Homo sapiens: one gene and its partners. The protein of the gene in region 2 interacts with the protein of the main gene of each other region in a pairwise test. Each region holds a gene or a part of one and is shown on either strand. Other genes may lie near its edges.

The links. The genes of interacting proteins can lie anywhere in the genome.
Region 1: the proteins of TPRG1 (region 2) and SLC35H1 interact in binary tests that used the Homo sapiens proteins (3 or more experiments, as listed by UniProt).
Region 3: the proteins of TPRG1 (region 2) and SCN3B interact in binary tests that used the Homo sapiens proteins (3 or more experiments, as listed by UniProt).

What each region holds. Positions count from the first base shown.
Region 1 is NC_000020.11:46,354,399-46,361,425, forward strand, and holds part of SLC35H1 (solute carrier family 35 member C2), read right to left. Parts: intron 4,561-7,027; exon of another isoform or gene 4,366-4,560; 5' UTR 4,328-4,365; coding exon of another isoform or gene 4,293-4,327; 5' UTR 4,161-4,292; coding exon of another isoform or gene 4,109-4,160; coding exon 3,989-4,108; intron 3,376-3,988; coding exon 3,225-3,375; intron 2,240-3,224; coding exon 2,176-2,239; intron 1,477-2,175; coding exon 1,404-1,476; intron 844-1,403; coding exon 675-843; intron 568-674; coding exon 484-567; intron 1-483.
Region 2 is NC_000003.12:189,202,969-189,209,995, reverse strand, and holds part of TPRG1 (tumor protein p63-regulated gene 1 protein), read right to left. Parts: intron 2,621-7,027; coding exon of another isoform or gene 2,612-2,620; coding exon 2,402-2,611; intron 1-2,401.
Region 3 is NC_000011.10:123,630,598-123,637,624, forward strand, and holds part of SCN3B (sodium channel regulatory subunit beta-3 precursor), read right to left. Parts: intron 3,610-7,027; coding exon 3,546-3,609; 3' UTR 3,524-3,545; intron 3,180-3,523; 3' UTR 1-3,179. UniProt on the Homo sapiens protein: Regulatory subunit of multiple voltage-gated sodium (Nav) channels directly mediating the depolarization of excitable membranes.

The sequences.
Region 1 (7,027 bases), on a different chromosome or scaffold from region 2:
TCTTGGAACAATCCCTGATTCCCCATTCCTTAGAGGCAAGATAGGGTGGTTAAGAGTAGGGCTGGACCACTTGGAGCCAGGCTGCTGGCTTCAAATTCTGGCTCATTTACGAGCTATGGGACCTTGGGCAAGTTATCTTTACTTCTCTGGGCCTCATTTTGTTCTACCTGCAAAATGGGGGATAATAATAGTACTGCCACACCAGGTTTTTGGAAGGATGAAATGAGTTCCTATGTTTAAAAAGATCAGAACAGCCCTGGTGCACTTTCAGGGCTCTGTGCACACTTACTGTTACTGTTCCCTGAATTTTATATGTGCTTTCTCTGTAGCGTTTATCATGCTGGACCCCAAACCATGCGCTTCCAGGGGAGGGACTGCATCTTTGATCTCAATAATCTCTGCAGCTACCACTGTGTTGGGCTCAGGGCGAGGATCTGTGGTCTGCTGCACTGAGGTGCCCTTGAGAGGGAAGGCCCAACGTACCTTCAAATACAGCAAAGAGAGGGAAGAGCCCCAGGAACATGAGTGGCTGCAGGTGGAACATGGTGTCGATGGGATTCTGGAGGCCTGCAGGGCGGGGGACAGGCACCATCAGGTCTGGTCCGGCCCTGCCCTGCCTCCGCCCTGCCTGTGCCGGGGTTCCTCTCTCTGGAGGATGAGTGGCACGTGCTCACCGAGTTCAGCCTTCTGCAGGAGCATCTGGGTGAGGGTCCAGCGAATGCCACCGATGAACGAGGCCCCCAGCACCAAGGCGAAGCCCTCCACGTTGAACTGTGTGGACTTGTAGGTGAACATGAAGAGACCCCCGGCGATGAGGAGGACCACCAGGACCAGTGCCGCGCGCTGGTAGGATGGGGAGCAGTGGCAGCTAACTCGGGGGTCTTGAGGGTCAAGGGTTCATCACATTTGGAGCCTGGGGTCAGCAGCCATCTTGGCTGCCCCTGGGGCAAGAAATCCTTCCACCCTTCAGCTCCATCCCAGGGGGTCCTGGACAGTCCTTGCCCACCAATGTCAGCATGTAGGGCTGACGGTCAGCTGGTATGCCAACAGCCCTGCTTGCTCTGCCACACTGACGGCTGTCCTAGGCCCCCAAGTGGTCCCACCTCCTCCCTGGGCCTAACACACAGGGCTACTGCCTCCCACAGCAGGGTGCTTCCTAGACCCAGCTCTGCTGGGACCCTCATCCTGCAGTGCTTTCACCTTTGGTCATTACCCTGCCACACTGGTTTCTAAATATTCTGAGTATTGCCCATGTCTAGGTCCCTTCTCAGAAAGGGATCTACTGCCACCTGGACTGGGCTTGTCTCCTCTGTCACACAGCAGGACAAGCCACTGCTCAGACTCCCACTTTATTCTTAGCATCTGTGGGGGCAGGAAGGACACAAGAGACGCTGGGGCCTCACCAGCTCCTCCAGCTTGAAGATCAGAGAGAAGATCAAGATGAAGAGGACAGCTGAGGATTTGGTCATTGTGTACCTGGAAGCAAAATTACCCACAATGCACTGCTGGAGCTCAGGGCTCAGACCCATCACCGAGAAAGGAGCAGGAGCACAAATCACTGAGCGAAATGACCAAACAGAGCTGGGCTGTCATCTGAGTGATAAGCGACCTTTAATCAGAAGGAATCTCTGACTAAGAGGCCTCTGGTTATCACCAGAGAGAAGAGGTTACAGGTCTGACGTTGAGCTCCCTGAGTCCTGTTCTTTACCTAACCCTCGGCAGAGCCCAGGAGCGGGAAGGAAGGATGAGAAGTAGGAGGACAAGAAGGCAGGAACAGTGCTCTCTGAAGCAAAACATCAGAGGGAAGAAGAAACTCTTGTGTAGCCCCCAGGCCACATAGGGCTCTGCTGCGGCTGCGTGTACCACCCACCAGTGGCCACCTGTCTGTGGCCTTGCAGCCTGCCTTCCCCTGCTCTGATGATGGGGTTCTGGGAGAGCTCCCTGGCTTCCCCACGCTGCCTGGCAGGTGGGCACAGCATCTCCTCTGCGCTGGGCTTACGGAAGAGGCTGGCGACTTCCCGGAGAGCTGCTGGGTGCCAGGGAGAGGCTGAGAGAGCAAGGGCTGGTCCCAGAGTGGTGGAGTGGCTGGCCTAGCAGCCGGGTGTGCAGACACCCCGCTGGACAGACAGACAGCTTCAGCCTGAAGGGAGGCAGCAGGGCATGGCCAGTACTCACAGCGAGACGGTGACATACAGGAAGCTCCAGTTGGACAAGCCCACGTCAAGCGCCGTCGCCAGAGCTGTGAAGACACAGGCACCCACAGGACAGCTTGGGAGGTCCACACTCTGCTGGGGTGGGCTGGTACCCTGAGGCACCTGAGTGTCCCCCACTTCTGAACCATCCCGGTGCCTCCTGTGGGGCCCTTGGGCCTTCTTTTCCACCAGCAACTAAAGGGTTAATATCTGGCCCCCAAAGGTCGGGGGCTGCTCTAGCATTAGGGCTGGGGCCCATTCCAACTGGCTGGGCCGGTATGGTTTCCACAAACACTCCGGCGAGCCCCCTGAGCGGAGGTATTAACCTGATCTGGTTGATCCCTTACTGGAAACCCTTTTCCCTCAGGATGGAACACAAACTCCTCCACGGGGAATCCGGCCTCCAGGACATGACCCCTGCCCACCCTCTCAGTTCTCATTTTTCCCACTTCCTCTGGCCAGCACCGGGTTCTCAGTATCCTGAAACACTTTGAGTTCCCTTCCAGACCCCACAGCTGGCACTAAATCTCCCTCGGGCCACGAGGGCCCCTCCTCCCAGGGCCAACCAGTCCCACGCATCCTTCAGGGCTCTGCCTACTTGGCACCTGGCCTAGGAAATCTTCCTCTACCAGCCATGGGCCCCGGCCTTGGGTTGGTCCCCTCCCTGGGCTCCGTAGTGCCCTCCATGTCCGTGTCACAGCCCTGCGAGGGCAGGGACCCTGCCTGCTCACCACTTATCTCCAGGCCTGAGGGCTGCACTCCAGGCTCGGTGTCTGCTGGCAGGAGAGGGAGCTGCGGGGCCGCAGGTGCAGGGGGGGTTTTGTGGGTGTGTGGTGGGGCAGTGGGAAGGCACGCAGTGCACAAGAGGCAGCAGCGTGGGTGGTGGGAGGCCAGGTCAAGAGGGCAGAGGAGGAACAGTGCAGGAAGAGGGGAGGGACTTGGCTTCCAGACATGCGGGTGTCTCTCTTGTTCTCATCCTATGGTTCCCCAGCCCCTCTTCCTGCTCTGCCCTCACTGAGGTCCCCCACCTACCTGTGGGAGCCACTCTTCTGAGGTAGTCGGCCCAGCTCAGCACCACACGGGCCCTGTGGCTGGAGCACTGAACCAGCGCCCTGGACAGGGCGGAGAAGAGGAAGATCACGGCCAGGTGCAGCATCGTCATGAAGAGGGGGAAATGGAAGCTCTGTATGGAGCCCAAAGCAGACACCCCGGCTTGGTTTAGACAGCCTGCCCCCCACCGGCTCCCTCTTCCTCTTCGCCCCTCTGCTGGAGTGGGGCTCATTCGGTGGTTCATGAGGACCTTGCTATGTGTGTAGGGCCCTTAGTTACGGTATCATCGCTTGGAATGACAGACTCTTAGGTCACGAAGACAGGTGGCAGCCAAGAGACTCAATCCTAGCCTGGTGCTGTCTCCACCATTTCAACACACCTGTGAGCTACCTGCCCAGCCTTCCTCACGGCCTATGCCCAAGTGAGAGCCACTGCGGCCCACTACGTTGTATCACTTATTAAAATATTGAAATACTTCTCTAGTGGGGTAAATAGCTGCTGCTTGAGCCCCAGTTTCCCCAGCTCATCCCTTCACACCCCCCGCTCTCCTTGGTTTCCCTGGATCCAAACACTGAAGGGGAACCCTGGCACGGCAGGCTTGGAGGGCCCTGTTCCAGCCCAGCCGTGACTGGCTTCCAGTTAGACTGGTTGAAGCTTGTGCCTTCCTGTTAAACATGAAGGGCACCGTAGCCATGGCTCTGGCCACCTTCATCCCAGCACCCCGCCCCAGCAAGGCCTCCTGGTACCTTTGTCAGCCACTTGTTGTAGAAGGTGATGCCGATGGAGAAGCAGTAGTAGAGAAGCACCAGCCCCAGGGTCAACACCGCCTTCCACAAAAAGGCCACATCGAGGGCCCACCTCCCCATTCGTGGCGGCTGCAGCACCGGAGCTCCTGAGTCAGCGGGGGCAGGCACCCCTCTTGAATACAATGTGCAGGAAGAGCCGGTGGAGTTAGACCACAGCTTTCACCAAGAACGTCTCCAGGCTGGAGGAGCTCTCTGCAGCTCCATGATTCGGAACCATCAGCAGAGCCCCAGGCAGAGTCCTCACCTAAGGGGCTGGTGGCTGGTGCTGACCCTTCCCATGGTTAATTGGATGCAGCGCTCACAGGTCCCAAGGTCTGCTGCTGGGGAAAAAGGGCCGCTCTGGAGCCTCAGGCAGAGACTGTGCTTCTCGTAGCCATGGGTGCCTCTGAAGGCTGCGTGACTCAGGGCTCTGGAGGGGCTGCCCACAACGGCACAGGCAGTCCCAGAGACCCACGTCGTGTCTGCTGTCTTGTCACCTCAAGCTATTCTCCATGAACTGCCACCAAAGTGACCTTTTAAAACACAAACTGATCATGTCAGGCCACTGCTTAAAACCCTTCAGCAGCTTCCAGTGCTTTTCTGATAAAGACCAGCACCCTTCTTTCGGCTCCCATGGCCTCATCTGGCCCTGCTGGTCTTCCCAGTCTCAGCCACAGGCTCTCCAGGACCTGGCCCCACTGGGCGCCTTTCAGCTCCCCAAACACACCAGCTTTCTTCCCGTTGTCTGAAGGAAATGAACGAACACTGCACCCACCCTTCAGTCCTTCATCAATCCTACCTATCTTCAGCTCAGAGGTCACTTCTTCAGGGAACCCCACCCCATCCCCTGAATCAGTCCCCTGAGATACATGTTGCTTTCACGGCTCTCCTACTTCTCTTTCATAGCACTTGTGCAGGGTGTGATTTGAGTAATGTCTGTCCCCTGAGAGGCTACGAGCGGCACAAAGATAGGGACCAGTAAGACCACACTGGCCTTACGCACAGCTGGTGTACTTTAAGTTCTCCGTCTGGTTTGATGACTGACAGAGAGCAGGCATGCGATTTTCAGGGGACTGGTCTGGTCTTTAGGGGTTAAAAATGGAGAAGGAAACCAACACTCTAACGGCTGGAACACTGTAAGACCAGGCTGTAACCACTACTCCCTGGAAGCAGAGCCTGCCTTACGGTATTGCCAAATGAAACCACTCCCAGCCTCCCTGTCAATCCAGCCAACCCTGATGAGTGCCCGGAGCATGCCGGGTAGACCTGTCTGTGCCTGGAGGAGCCTCAGGTCCAGTGTTATGTGATGATACCTGCTGCTTCATCTGGGTGCCCCCCTCAACCACAGATCCTCCTTTGAGACATTCCCATCCTATTGAAACGCCACCTTCTTCTCGAAGCCTTCCTAGGCTTCACGATCAGACACATTCTCCATCTCCCACCCCAACATTTCTGAAGGGAGCAGTTACATTCCATTCTGCACTCTGGAACTCTTGTTACTATTTCCCCTCCCCGGGGCAAACAGGGAGCTGGCTGTGTCCAAATGAATCTCTGGGGCTACAGTTGTCTTCAGAGGAGCTTTGGAAACCTGTGGCGGTATTTTGGGGATATGCTCCTGGCGTTCAGTAAGCAGGGATAAAGAAGGGGCAGTCCACATAGCCAATTACTGCTCTGCATCCCGCACGACTTTGACATCCATATAGGTGAAAGATTAGCTTATAATTATCTGAACCTAGAATGTAACTCTGTTTACATGTAAACACAGTGCAGTGTTTCCATGGTTCTGCTGTGAACTAACACTTCCAAGAATAAGACGCCTATGTACAATGAAGGGAGACTGAAAATGGTCAAAATTGGTCTCAAAATGGCACCAAAAGTGTCCATTCTGGAAAAACCACATCATCTACAGCAATGGCACTAGTGGTTTTCGAGGTGCGACACAACACGGCTGTGTCAGTCTGTGTCTGTGGCCATCACACTCCTAGAGGGTCCACACAGAAGGGACAGCTTCACTGCAACTTCCAGCACTATTGTGCCCAGAAACTTACATATTGAAACATATTTTGTTTTACTATCAATTACTTTCCTTTTATGTTATAGGGCATGGTTATTTATATTTTATTTTATTTTTTTTTTGAGACGAAGTTTCGCTCCTGTTGCCCAGGCTGGAGTGCAATGGTATAATCTCGGCTCACCACAAGCTCCGCCTCCCAGGTTCAAGCGATTCTCCTGCCTCAGGCTCCCTAGTAGCTGGGACTGATTACAGGCATGCACCACCACACCCGGCTAATTTTTTATATTTTTAGTAGAGATGGGGTTTCTCCATGTTGGTCAGGCTGGTCTTGAACTCCCAACCTCAGGTGATCCGCCCGCCTTGCCTCCCAAAGTGCTGGGATTACAGGCGTGAGCCACCGCGCCCGGCTGCATTTGTTGATTTTTAAAAAATTATGTGTAGGCAGTTTTTATTAATCATATGTTTCATTTTAGGGTAATAAAAGGGACTGTTACAAAATATTTGTAATAAAAAAGAGGTGTCAGATCCAATGAGTTGAGACTCCTACCTGACCTAATGCATTCTCATTCCTTCAAATGCCTTCTGTAAGCTGATGTCTTCCCAATATATGCCCCGGCTCTGATTCATGTGAACTCCAGAAGAATATCCAATGCCTACCTAACCTCTTCTTCCCTTAGATATCTAATATCAGGCATCTCACTCACATCTAGAGTGTCTGAAACTGACTCGTGTTTTCCACACCCCCATTTCATCCAAGCCTGCTCCTCTTCCTACTTCCCATCCCAGCAAATGGCTCCACTACTCTCCTAGTTGCTCAGGCCAAAAGCCTTAGGCTCATCTGATTCCTCTCTTCCCCTTAGCCCACATTCAATCAATAAATACCGTCAGCTCTATCTTCAGAAATATCCCAAATATGAGCACATGTCCTGAACTCCACCACTACCATCTCAGCCACCATCCTCTCCCCAAATGACTGCAGGAGTCTC
Region 2 (7,027 bases):
ATTTTCATTGTTCTCATGTGTGTGAATGCACATTTATTTTACTCACATGGCAATAAGAGCTCTTCATACTATGTTTGTTGGTCTGAAGGAGGGCAAACACTGAGTATCTTGGGAAAATCTCCCTATTGGTTCCCAGAGTCTTCAGGTTTACTTTAGATCCCTCACAAGCTTTTGAGAACTTAAGATTGTTTTCGATACACCTAATGAAAAAGATATTCTTCGCATTGATTGGAATCAGTCATTGAAAACACTTATAAAGGAGCCATAAATTCTACTGTGCGTGGTCAGGAAAGTATTGGACTTGGAGAAAGAAGTTCCAGAATCAAGACCCGGAATCTAGCTGCAGCCCTTCCACTAACATTATATGATTTGGACAGGTCACTTCATTTTTCTCAAACTTCAATATGTTCATCTTTAAAACACGGATGTTAAGCCCTCTCCTGCCTGCCTCCCAGTATTGCTCTGGGGAATCAAACAGATAAAGGATGTGAGTTTGCTGTATAAGCTACATGGTACAACACCAATACAATCATCATGTGTAGTGGATTTGGACTCTGTCAATTTAGCTGAGCTGAAACTACATTTTCTAGAATTGCTTTTTTGTGTGTGTTTCCAAATTAGGGCTGGCAACAAGAGACACCTGTGTAATATTCAAAAGGTAGAATTGAAACATAAGTCGTTTTCCCTGTTGAAGATCAGTGCAGGTCACCATGCACTGTGACAACTCATGTTCATGGCAACTGTTATCCTGGTTTACTTAACGGCAAGGGGTAGCCCCTGTACCTGCGTCTCCTTCCATCACAGTCAGGCTTTTTTTCTAAGACTTTCCTCTCCCTGGGCTAGTTAAGTGTGTAGCTCAGTAATGAAAGCACTAGCTTCTAAAAGTGACCTCACACCATCAAGGTTAGACTTGGTGGGAGACAGACATAGGTTCCAGTTTTTCCTCATAAGTTAAACATTGTCACCAGACATTCCAGTTTGTCCATGCAATTTTTTCCTATTCCTTTTTCCCTATTTCCTCTTCACAACTGCCAACTGATTGGCCTATTCTAACTTCAGGCCCAACACCAGATTCAGAGAAAACAACTTTCCATAGTCCCAGCCAGCTCTCATAATTGCATCAGCTCCCAGCAATAAATCTTTATTCTATATCGCAGTGTGTTCTTCTATCATCAAACCCTACATCATCAATATCAAAGATAGCACAACTCCAAGAGATGCTTTGATTTCCTTTGCAGCTATATCACACAGCTTAACTTTGCATATTCAATAAAGTTCACATACTTCGGAAAACAAACCATATGCTCTACATATGCAGAAACACTCACACAAACACACATATAGTATCGCACCTACTAAAGCATCTTGCACATAAGAGTATATGCAGTGTTTAAACACAGACTCACACAGGCACACACACACACTCGTTAAGTTGCTTTAGTTAAAACTTTACCTAAACCAAAGATATCTTTTGAAAGCAACCAAATCAGGATTTATTAATTAAAGCTTTGGAAAAGTCACAAAACCCTGGCCCCAATTTTTTATGAGAATGAGTTGAAATACATTTTTTTTCCAAAAAGATCTCCCACGTACACATGAAAATGAGATGTTCTCTGTTGCCATAGTGTAAACTCCCTGATTTTGCCCCCAATTGATTGTAACCTCTAAGCTAACCATGACTGTGCTAATAAGAATGTTGAAGGATTGGAAAGAGGATCTATAAGTAGGAAGAAGAGCTCAAGAGGGAAAGGTACTAGAAACCTATGAAGCACTCTCCACTTGAATCAAATGCTAAAAGTTAAAAATACTGCTTTTTTAACATCCAGATATACAAGCTCCCTCCTGCTTACTTACCCATCCATTTACTTTCCCAGCTCCATTGCACAGGTAAGAGAGCTCAGCTCCAGCTGGTCGCTGTAGGTTTGAGATTTAAAGCTACCTGCTCCCTCGTTGTAATATGAGCATCCCATCGTAAACTTTAGAGAGTCAGTGCGATCTTAGCAACCCTCTCCACTCCATTATCCATATCTTTTCCACACAAACAATGAATACCCTCACTGGATTAACAGCTTTGTATTCTAGCTGCTATGGTTCTCTCTTTATGGAATACTAGTTCTTTGAGATCAGGTTTAGCATAAACACAAACTGAGGAACCAAAGAAGGAAGCTCGAGGACACACTTCTCCTTAATACTATCTGTGGAATCAAACATAGATCTTTAAATTCTCTAAAGTTCAGATCCTTCATCTTTAAATAGGGATAAGGATAGCTACTTCATGATTATTATGACGATTACATGAGACAAATGTGAGTACACTCAGTAAATATGTGATACACAGAAGGATTTTAAGATGTCTTGGGGTGAATTTTTATATAGTATTTAAGAGAACCAATAAATTTACCCGTGTAGCAAAGTACTTCCGTGAGATATAAGGCTGATGATAAGGATTGGGGTAAAGAGTTGATTCGGTCACACTTGACTGCCTTGAAATCTGTCTTGGCATCGGGTCCTCTTCCTCCATCGATAGGTGGTCAGTCTCAGAGGGTTGGTCATCTCCCTCTTGCTTCAGAGACACAGCCTGGAATCCTTCAAAACTCCCAATTGTTGACATTTCTTCAGCCTAAACCAAGGGCAGAAAAATCTCATTGAAAAAATGTTACCTCTGTACCTGTGTCCTAGCTATGGCAAAACAGAATATGATGAGCAAACGGAATTCCTGAAACTTAAAAACATCCTTCATGTTAACTAAACAGAGGCATTGGTGGATACAGCTTCATAACACAGACTTCTAAATACCATCCACAATCCTGCAAGGTCATTTACCAGAGAAGTGAAGGAGAGACTCTCCGGACAGAGAAAAGGAGTTTAATCCCAGGAGACAGGAACCTGAACAAGAGAAGAGCTATATAAAATAATTACCAGACAATTTCTCTTCAAAATTGCATAGCATTTTTGGTTGAAAATTCACCAGACTGCAAGCTTATTTAAGAGTTAAAAGCAATGATAATGCATTTTCTTGTGTGCTTCTTGAGTCATAATAGAGCATAAGAGCACTTAGAACTGAACATGTTTTTAACTGAAAGATTCGAATTCTAAAAATTTATTCTAAGAAAATAATTAGACGAATACCCAAAGACTCACACACACGCACATGCATACACGCGTGCACACACACACACACACACACGGTTGTTCAGCTGGGCATGGTGACTCATGCCTGTAATCCCAGCATTCTAGGAGTCTGAGGCTGGTAGATCCCTTGTGCTCAGGAGTTTGAGACCAGCCTGGGCAACATGGCGAAACCCAGTCTCTACAAAAAATACAAAAATTAGCCAGACATGGCGGAATGTGCCCATAGTCTCAGCTACTCGGTAGGCTGAGGTGGGAGGTTCACCTGAGCACAGGAAGTGGAAGTTGCAGTGAGTCAAGATCATGCCACTGCACTCCAGGCTAGGCAACAGAGCAAGACCCTGTCTCAAAAAAAAAAAAAAAAAAGTTTGTTCATCACAACACCGCATCTAATAGAAAAATATACCAGGTTATATATAAAAGAAAAACACACCACTTTATATCTCATACAACACTGTATGTAAAAACATTAGACATTCATGCAACATTGAGTCTAACACCAAAAAATAAAATAAAATAAGTATCCATCAGTAAGAAGTTGACTAAATAAAATATGTTGCACTGTAAATACAATGTTATCACTGAAAGTGTGAGTGTATATTTTATCACAGAAAAATATCCAAAATATATTATAAATGGAAAAAAGTAAGTTAAAAAATATTATAAATAATATTATTCCAATTTGTTAAAATAATTTAGAAAGAAAGAGAAGAAAGATAAAGAAGGAAAGGAAAGGAAGAAGGAAAAAAGAGAAGAAAGAAAGAAGGAAAGAAAGAAAGAAAGAAAAAGAAAGAAAGAAAAAAGAAAGAAAGACAGAAGAAAGGAAGGAAGGAAGGAAGGAAGGAAGGAAGGAAATGTACCTGCATATGTATATACAGGCACACATGTATGGTATAACAGATTTAAAAATGTCTAAAAAGAGGGCCTGAAAAGAAGTAAAATAAAATATAACAATAGTTATCTCTAGATGACAGTGTTAGAGGTGATTTTTATTTTTGTTTGCATGTCTGTGGGTGCTAGTAATGATCACACATGGTTTAAAAATAAATAAAAATAATATCTTGGTTTCTATTTTGTACATATAAAGCAAAGCAAAATAAAATAGAAGACACATGTTAGCTTAGCCTGTGCACTCAAATCCTTTCAAGCTGACAGTGAGCATGTTATCAATGCTACCTAGAAAGTTTCATGTCCATTTTCACCATGAAAGTAGGAATGCCATATTATTCTCGGAGTCACCTCCTTGTTCTTAAACAAAAGTGGTTTTTAATCAATTTCCTTGGTTCTTGTGAAACAAAAGAAGGTGAGAAGAAGCCCCTATCCCCAGCAAGCTTCCGCTTTTGAAATTGGGATTAACTAGGCTATTCACAAGAGGTAAAAATAGTATGATCATATAATTTATTAGCTAATTTTGGGATATTTTGGCATGAAAAGGGTGCTATTGACAATTATGTCAGGATGATAGGAGTGAACTGGACAGTCTCAGGCAAATGTGGCTCTATATATATGTTCACCCTGAGGATTTGAATGTAGAAAACACAGCTAAGGTAACTCACAAGTGGAAAGCCTTATGCAGTTTGCTTTATATGATTTCTTAAGCTTTATATGTTTTCTTATCCGATCTTTCCAGCAATCCTAGAAGAGCTACTTAGTCTTTCCCCATCTTTCTGAGGAACACAGAGTAGATGGGAACCACCCAGGGTCACACTTGAATAGTCGTAGCAGCAAGTGTCCTCCCAACCATGCCCCCAGTATAGCACACCCAACATCTGCCTTATGACAGAAAAGATGTCTCTGAGCTTTTAGGTGATCTTTTAAAGTTAGGTGTGCAAAAGGTAGAAATTGGTCTCTGAGAAAACAAGGAATGAAGAAGCAGGAGAAAGAGTGTATGTGTGTGTGTGTGTGTGTGTGTGTGTGTGAGAGAGAGAGAGAGACATAGAGACAGAGACAGAGAAAGAAAGACAGACAGAGGAGGCACTCTGACCTTCCTGTCCCTGGCAGCTACATGCTGTATTTATGCAGGTCTGCCACCTTTATCACAGTGGGTGTTGGAAGGAAATGCATTTCTAAAGTTCTCTATAACCTGTGAAGGAAGGTTTGTGCCATTGGGGAAGGAAAGCCTGCTTCTGTATTTGCGCACTCTGTGAACACACGCCTAACAACAGACATCTGCGAAAGGCTCCTGTGCCTGGAAAACAGAGGGAGGATTTAATTAGCACCACTTCCTCTCCCTCAGGCTGTCTTCTCTGGAAACACTTGGGGAAGCTCTGCGCTCTGAGACCAAGCTGTTTGAGATCCAGGAAAGAAGGAAACTCTCAGCTCCGTTTAAATTCTCACTGCCATAAATAGTGGGAAAGTTGAGCCCAGCTATCCCAATCCAGAGTAATTCCAGCTCTGTTCCAGTCACAGGAACATCTTAGAAGAACAATAAACAGAACTTCCTCAGCTTCCCCAACAGGAGAAGCGTGCTGCACATCTACACATTCCACTCTATTTCTCATGACCTCTGGCCCAGTTCATTCCCAATTCAATAGTAAGTGCTCTTCTATCCCTGCATAGGCTGTATTCCGTGAAATGCTAAAGGTACATTAATACCAGTAACAGATCAAAATCAAATGTTCCATTGCTTTCACATAGATCAATCATCCCCTGCAACAAACTCATTGGGAGCCTTTTAGAACTGAAAAGATTTGCTGTTCTGTAATATTTCCCAGTAAATTTATATCTTCATTTAGAGAGTAAAGGCAGCACAATTTCATAGGAAAACAAAGGGTCAAAACTTAGAAAAAGTAAATGATGTTCAGTTTTTTTTTTTTTTTTTTTTTTTTTGAGACAGTCTCGCTCTGTCACCAGGCTGAAGTGCAGTGGCACGATCTAGGCTCACTGCATTCTCCGCCTCCTGGGTTCATGCAATTCTTCTGCCTCAGCCTCCAGAGCAGCTGGGACTACAGGTGCTTGCCACCATGCCCAGCTAATTTTTTGTATTTTTGGTAGAGACAGAGTTTCACCATGTTGGCCAGGATGGTCTTGATCTCTGGACCTCGTGATCCACCCGCCTCAGTCTCCCAAAGTCCTGGGATTATAGGCATGAGCCACCTTGCCCAGCCAATGTTCATACTTTTTCATGGAATCTTCTCATTCCAGGGAATTCATGTAATAAAAACTACCTGAAAGAAGCAAAATGCTACAATATTAATTGCTTATTCTGAGTAGTAATGAAAAATGGAAAACCAACTAAACACCTAATGTTCAAGGAATGGCTAAGTATATCCAACTGGTATTACACAGGCATTCAAAATAACACGCAAACATTGCAGTAGCACGAGATTAACAGTTGTATCTTCTTGAGTGAAATAAAGCAGGAAACCAAAAATATTTTATCTTGGAATGTTCCACTGAATAATTTCACATTGGTAAAGACTAGAAAGAAAATAGTTATATTTATTGAAGTAGTGGATTGTGCGTCAATTTTTGCTCTTTTAAAAAAATTAAATGGCAGTAGTGCTGATTTTTTTAGCATTAAAAAAAAAATCCCAAATAAAGCCTTAAGGAAGTACTACCTTGCCTTTGATTAGACAATAGAAATACTATATTTCTCAGCTGCCAGAAAATTCAGAACTAAATTTAATATAGTATTATAGTAAATAACTTATTTCCAGATCCTGGTCTAAGTATAACTGCTTCCATTTATAAGGAACTTCATCTATCTCTCTGAGAATTTTTCTAATAATATTATAGAAGCATGTAGGGCATAAATTATAGCTTAAAAGTTATTGTTTAGTTCAACTTTTTTATTTGGCAAATATTGAAACAGACCCCCTGAAATGAGGGTTGTCCATGGCCACACAGCTCCATAGAATGAAAACATGCAACCCGACCTCTAGTTTTCTGGACTCCA
Region 3 (7,027 bases), on a different chromosome or scaffold from region 2:
GAAGTAGGCTGGTGATCACAGTACCTTATTGATTTACAGTCATTATCAAATCTCCCAGGAAGGAGTTTAATTGCAATTCAGGAGAAATAATGATGTACAAACCAACTAGAAAGAGAACCAAAATAGGACTGACTCTCAAAGCACATTGCTAGCATCCACCAAAAAGCAAAGTGGTAGAGAAGCAGTGAGTGGGATTAGGGGTGAGAGAAGATGGAGAACATTAGGACAGGCAAGATAGGCAATGGTTAGATGGAAGCTAAAAAATAAGAAAAGGAAGCAGCTATGGTCTAAGTGGAAAGAGAACTGAAAGAGGAGTCAGAAGACCTGGATTCTTGCTGTCTACCTACCAGCTAGGTTTCCTTATAATTTAGTAAAGCTACTTAACCTCAGAGACCCTCAGTTTCTTCTTTTGTAATGTGACCTCACAGGACCAGTTATAGAGAAGAAATAAAATAGTTAAGTGAAAATACTTCGTAAACCATATAGTTCTAATGAAAGTGTCAAGAATGAGAAGAATGGAGAAGTTAGAAAAAGGAAGAGTGGGGAAGATAACCTGTCAAGGATAAATAAGTGATAGATACCATTCAGCTTCATTAAAAGCCACGCAAGCAGCATCTGAGTTGGGTTTTTTTAAAAAGAAGAGAAAAAGGCAATCATGCATACTGCCGGGTTCAACTTAGATACACGAGCTATTGGGCCACCGAGGAAAACGGTGTGGTAGTAAGCATCTTGCTACTACCGCAAGCTGGTGGCATCCATGAGCTATGGGACTGGAAAAATTTCACACTGAGGCCAATTTTTCTAACTATAAAGTTAAAAAGGTCTATATCCTCTCCCTTATTTCAGAGGGATTGTGTGGAAAATTACCAATAAGAAGAGTCTTGAATTTATTGCAAATATTTTCTTCAACAAAATCAGACTCTTTAATGTGTTAACGGTCTGGTTTTGGGCCAGGCACAGTTGCTCAGGCCTGTAATCCCAGCACTTTGAGAGGCTGAGGCTGGCAGATTGCTTGAGCCCAGGAGTTCAAGATCAGCCTGGGCGACATGGCAAGACCCCTGTCTCTACATAAAATACAAAAATTAGCCAGGCATGGTGGTGCATGCCTGTAGTCCCAGTTACCTGGGGGCTGAGGTGGGAGGATTGCTTAAACCTGGGGCAGTTGAGGCTGCAGTGAGCTGAGATTGCACCACTGCACTCTAGCCTGGGAGACAGAGTGAGAATCTGTCTCAAAAAAATAATAATAAATAAATAAAAATTTAAAAGTCTGGTTTTAAGTACTTTCCTAGGGATGGAAGAATGAAAAAAATGAGCTTTTAAGGTAAAGCCCTAAACCTATGGAATATGGTCTTTCCCTATAAAGGGAGGTCCCAGGTCTGAGGGACCTCTCTCTCGCTGAATCCCAGTCACCTTCATCTTCTTACATTCCATAAAGCATCTTTCCCCTCTCTTGTCCCTGGGTGCTGAAGGATGTCACACTTGGACCTGTCACTTAATTAAAATGAAACACGAGATATTGACTAAAGTTTTTTCCAGTTTCTCTGCTCCCTCAAAATCTAGGGGAAAAAAATCTGAAAATTATGCATTCATAGGCGAAGTATTTGGAAAGCACCTACCCATCCCTCCCCTCTCACACTGCTCATTTACTTATGATCCATCTCAGACTAAACATTTTTCTTAGTTTAAATATCAGTCTCAGATGCACTCTCCTTTTGGAGGATATTTCAGAGTCACAGATCTTTACATAAAGGAAGTTCTTTAAGTCTACCTCATGTTCTTCTCCCTGCTTTTTTGGCCAATTTCTAGTCATCTGAATCTATCAGAGTTGACCTCAGCCCAGTCCGTGCTTGTGAAAGAAGCATTGCCATAGACAAGTTCAATGTCAGTCTTTTCAGAAACAAAGTTATCCACCGGGCGCAGTGCCTCACGCCTGTAATCTCAGCACTTTGGGAGGCTGAGGTGGGTGGGTCATTTGAGGTCAGGAGTTCAAGACTAGCCTGGCCAACATAGTCAAACCCTGTCTGTACTAAAAATACAAAATTTAGCCAGGCGTGGTGGTGCACACCTGTAATCCCAGCTACTGGAGAGGCCGAGGCATGAGAATTGCTTGAACCCAAGAGGCAGAGGTTGCAGTGAGCCGAGATCACACCACTGCACTCTAGCCTAGGTGACAGAGTGAGACTCCATCTCAAACAAAAAAAACAAAAAACAAAACAAACAAAAACATCCATCCCAGGAAGTGTAAACTGGGCAGCACCTAAGGCTTATTTCTGCTCCAGTTTATCCTCTTAAGCCTCTTATTCAGTTGAGCCCTGTATGAGTCTTAGTTGCCTCCTGTATGTAAAATGAGGAATAATACTGGTGCACAGAAATTTTGAGAGGAAGAACTCAGGAATTTCAGTCCTAATGCCCAGGTGGTGTGCCCACAGGGAGGGCACACATACATTATCGCAATAGGATCAGGAACGTGTCCAGAAACATGTTGCATGACTTTTTAAGAGCCACTTAAATTACCATTGGTCCTTCCCAAGTCTCCTGTCCTTGTCTTCTTGGAGGGAACCTTAGAGACCCATCAGGATCTAGCTCTGGAGTACTAAGCTCCAGAGAGCATGTTAGTCCATGCTTCAGGATCTTTCTGTCACTGGAGAACCTAGACAGGCGTGCTTCACTCTGATGCTGTAGCAAAGTGGGCCATGAACCTGACAAAACTGACTTCAGGGAATCCAAGTTCATGACACACTTTTGCTTTAACCCGAACTAATCACTCCTGCTTCCTTCTATTAAGACTTCCATTCTCTTGCAGTAATGGAGAATGAACCAGTTCCAGCCAGTTAAGGGCAGAGGGAGGTGCTAACTCCAGCACTTGTACAAAGTCATTTGGAGCACAGGGGAGAAATCCAGTTGGCTTTGGAGTGTCTTGTTGGAAAACTAGGAGAGGGTGAGGTTGAGTCTATGTAGAAATGTTGGCTTCTCAGTTCTGGCAGAGTCTTATGGTGCGTAGAGGTCTGATGGAGTTAGGGAGTCAGAGGTGAAAGCTCAGAGGCAGGTGGATGTATGGATGAATGAATGAACAGAACAATGGATGCATGAAGGGAAGCGATGGGGCCCTTGGGGCGCCCTCCTGATGCCATTGACATTGCTGAACATGGGATGTCCAGTCCCTCAGGTGTTCAGGCCACCTACCAAAGATAAAATAACTCACTGAGAATTTCCCACCCAGTCCAGCCCAGCCCAGCCCAAAAATTCTTTGACCAAAGAAGGGAGTTGGAGAATCCTGTGCCTCTGTTACCATGGGCAAGTTCAGATTGCCTCGACACTCAGGTCAAAGCAGTTCACCTTCCGAAGCGCTGACATCATACAGAGCTTTCTGACTTAAAGAATTACCCTGAGGGCGGGGACCCCAGGCAGGGTAGACAGTGACCTAAGGGACCAAATTTAAAGTCACTTCAGTTGTGGGCAACAAAGTCACTTGTACAACCTGCCATCCACATCTGCCTTCCCCTCCCATGTTCCTGTAGGTCACCTCATGTCACACTGCTCCTGTTCTATTCCTCCACTGGTACCGCAGAGTTCTCCTTGTTCTCAGATGGGATGGCAAGGTAGTCAGACCTATAGAGGACACAGGGAAAGGGAATCAGAGCTTCAGTGCCCAGCGTGGGAACACAAGATGGGGAAGGAGCAGGGCACAGGAGCAAGGATCTACAGAACAGCTCTGCATTTCCTTCTGCTGTGTTTCTCAAGAGAAAAACAACCTTTTCTGCAGATTAAAATAATCATTTCCCCCATATATGTACACGAACACCCACCAGGAGTGTATAGCTTCTCATTTATCCAGGTTGTCTTCAGCATTTAGTTAGATTATTATGTTGGCCAAGGCTCATGCCTCTAATCCCAGCACTTTGGGAGGCCAAGGCAGGAAAATTGCTTGAGCCCAGGAGTTCAAGACCAGCCTGGGCAACATGGTGAAACCCTGTCTCTACAAAAAATACAAAAAACTAGCCTGGCATGGTGGCACGTGCCTGTAGTCCCAGCTACTTGGGAGGCTGAGGTGGGAGGATCACCTGAGCCTGGGAGGTCGAGGCCATGATTGCACCACTGCACTCCAGCCTGGCAACAGTGAGACCATGTCTCAAAAATAAAATAAAATGTTGGTCAAAATGACAGCTGTGAAATTATATTTTATAGTTGTTTCACATGTTTACAGGCTATTTGGGTTTCTGCTTCTGAAATTTGTTCATCTGCTTTCCAGTTCTTCTGAGATCTTTGTCTTTTTCTCATTGATTTTCCTTTGATGCTTTCATGTTTTGACAATTTCTCCCAATCTCTTGTTTGTCTAGGAATTTTGCTTATGGAGTCTTCTAATGAACAGCTGATTCTTTACATATAATGTGATCAAAATTATTTTTCCTCTTGGATTTGTGCCTTTTGTATTTTATTTGGGAAATCCTCTCTATTGCATGGTGATAAAGAGAGTCTCTTATATTCCCTTAATGGAATTTTCAAGTTTGACATTTTACTTTGTGTTTAAATCCCCTCATAATTTATTTTGGTTTAGTATGAGAGATGGGGAATCTAATTTTGTTTTGTGTTTTTCTTTGTTTCTATATAGATTAGGAATTTTCCCTAGACCACTTACTGGGCAGTTCATTCTTCCTTCAATCACTGTAACGTCATCTCTCTCACATATCAGGTTTTCCTACATGCATTAACCTGATTGGTGGCTTTTTGTTTTGTTTGTCCATTTCGTATGCCTGTGCAGTATCACAAACTCTGTATTCTGATAGCTCTGTAAGAAACCTTCATCTGGCTGGGCGCAGTGGCTCACACCTGTAATCCCAGCACTTTGAGAGGCCAAGGCGGGTGCATCACGAGGTCAGGAGATTGAGACCATCCTGGCTAACATGGTGAAATCCCGTCTCTACTAAAAAAATACAAAAAATTAGCCAGGCGTGGTGGCAGGTGCCTGTAGTCCCAGCTACTCGGGAGGCTGAGGCAGGAGAATGGCGTGAACCTGGGAGGCAGAGCTTGGAGTGAGCCGAGATCGCGCCACTGCACTCCAGCCTGGGCAACAGAGCGAGACTCTGTCTCAAAAAAAAAAAAAGAAAACAAAGGAAACCTTCATCTCCGATAAGACAAATCCTACCAACCTCTTGCAAATTTACTGCTCTTTCTTTGAAATGGTTTAGACCGAGGGTGGGCAAACTGTGGCCTAAGAGCTAAGGATGGTTGTTTGCAAACAAATAGAAGAACAATACATGACAGGGACCTATGGCGCCTGCAAAGCCTAAAACACTTATTATCTGGCTGTCCCTTGGTTAAGACTATTTTTGGCTACTTAGCCTTCCATGTGACTTAATATCAGCTTATTAAGTTCTTTGAGAAATCTAATGGGCATTTTGATTGGGATTTCATTGAATTTGAAGATCAATTTGGGAGAAAATTGTTTACAATTGTGAGGTTTTACTCTCCATCTAGTTACGTTTAAAGTCTTTCAGTAAAGGTTTCTAACTTTTTCTTTAAATGTCTTGTATATTTTTGTCAAATTTATCCCCGGAACTGGGGAGTACTTCTTGCTATTGTAACTTTAAAAGCATTTTAATATTTTAAATATTTAAATTTGTTACTAAATTTGTTGCTGGAATATAGGTGATTTTTATATTTTGATTTCTATCAACAATTTTGTGGAATATTCTTCCTTGTCCTAATAGTATTTTTGTAGATTCTCTTAGGTATCCTATGTAAATAGTAGGTATAGATAATGATAATTTAGTTTCTTCCTTTCCAAGTCTTTTTCTTCCTTGTATTTACTTGGTCTTCACCTAGGATTTCCAACACAATATTGATAGAAACAGGGAGAGGCAGTCTCCTTGATATGTCCCTGATATTACAGGCACTTGAGGTTTCAACACATAGATGATATTTGCTGTAGGGTCTCTTAGTAGCTGCCATTTATCACTTTAAAGATGCTTGGTGTTTAGGTGTAGATGTATTTTATTCATCCTGCTCAGGGCATATTATGCTTCTTGAATCTGAAGAGTCATCCCTCCCTCAGCCGTTCTGTCTCTGAACACTGTCTCTCCTCCATTCTCTGTTCTATTCTGTTTTTTTTTTTTTGAGATGGAGTCTCGCTCTGTCGCCGAGGCTGGAGGGCAGTGCCGTGATCTCGGCTCACTGCAAGCTCCGCCTCCCAGGTTCACGCCATTCTCCTGCCTCAGCCTCCTGAGTAGCTGGGACTACAGGCACCCGCCACCATGCCCGGCTAATTTTTTGTAGTTTTAGTAGAGACAGGGTTTCACCATGTTAACCAGGATGTCTCGATCTCCTGACCTCATGATCTGCCTGCCTCGACCTCCCAAAGTGCTGGGATTACAGACGAGAGCCACCGCGCCCGGCCAAAATGATGCTTTCTTTATCAAACATTTCTAACTGGTAATAGCCTAGACTGTTTTCGGTTTGCCTCAGCAATGTTGCTAGAAATCTGTGGGTTTTTTCTATCTTTCCTTTCCCCAGACAACCAGCCAGCATGATCTCTTAAGACTCTTTGTTCTTACAGACCCCACCGTTTCTCAAATGTGCTCACCCTCAAGTGACTAGAGTCTCTGAGCAAATGGCTAAGGTACAGGCTGGACTTTAGAGGATTAGAGTCCCCACTCTGGACATCTAAGCGCTGCCAGGCTCTAGGGGAAATAACATGTTGCTTGGAGCTCCTTTGCTAGCAAAGGGCAGTGCCCAGATGGCCTGAGGAGCTCCATGGTATAAAGCAAACAGTTCAATGAGATAGAAAGAGCATGGACATTAGCACTAGAGAGACCTGGGTTCAAATCTCAGCCTTTCCTCTTACCATCTGTGTGCCTTGGTAAGCTGCTATGAGTCGGCTTGGCATTTACAGAACGGTTATAATAATGTTACTTTTTTGTTGTGTTTTTGGGCTTTTATTGTTGTTGTTTTTGAAATGGAGTCTCGCTCTGTCACCCAAGCTGGAGAGCAGTGGCACGATCTCAGCTCACTGCAACCTCCGCCTCCCAGG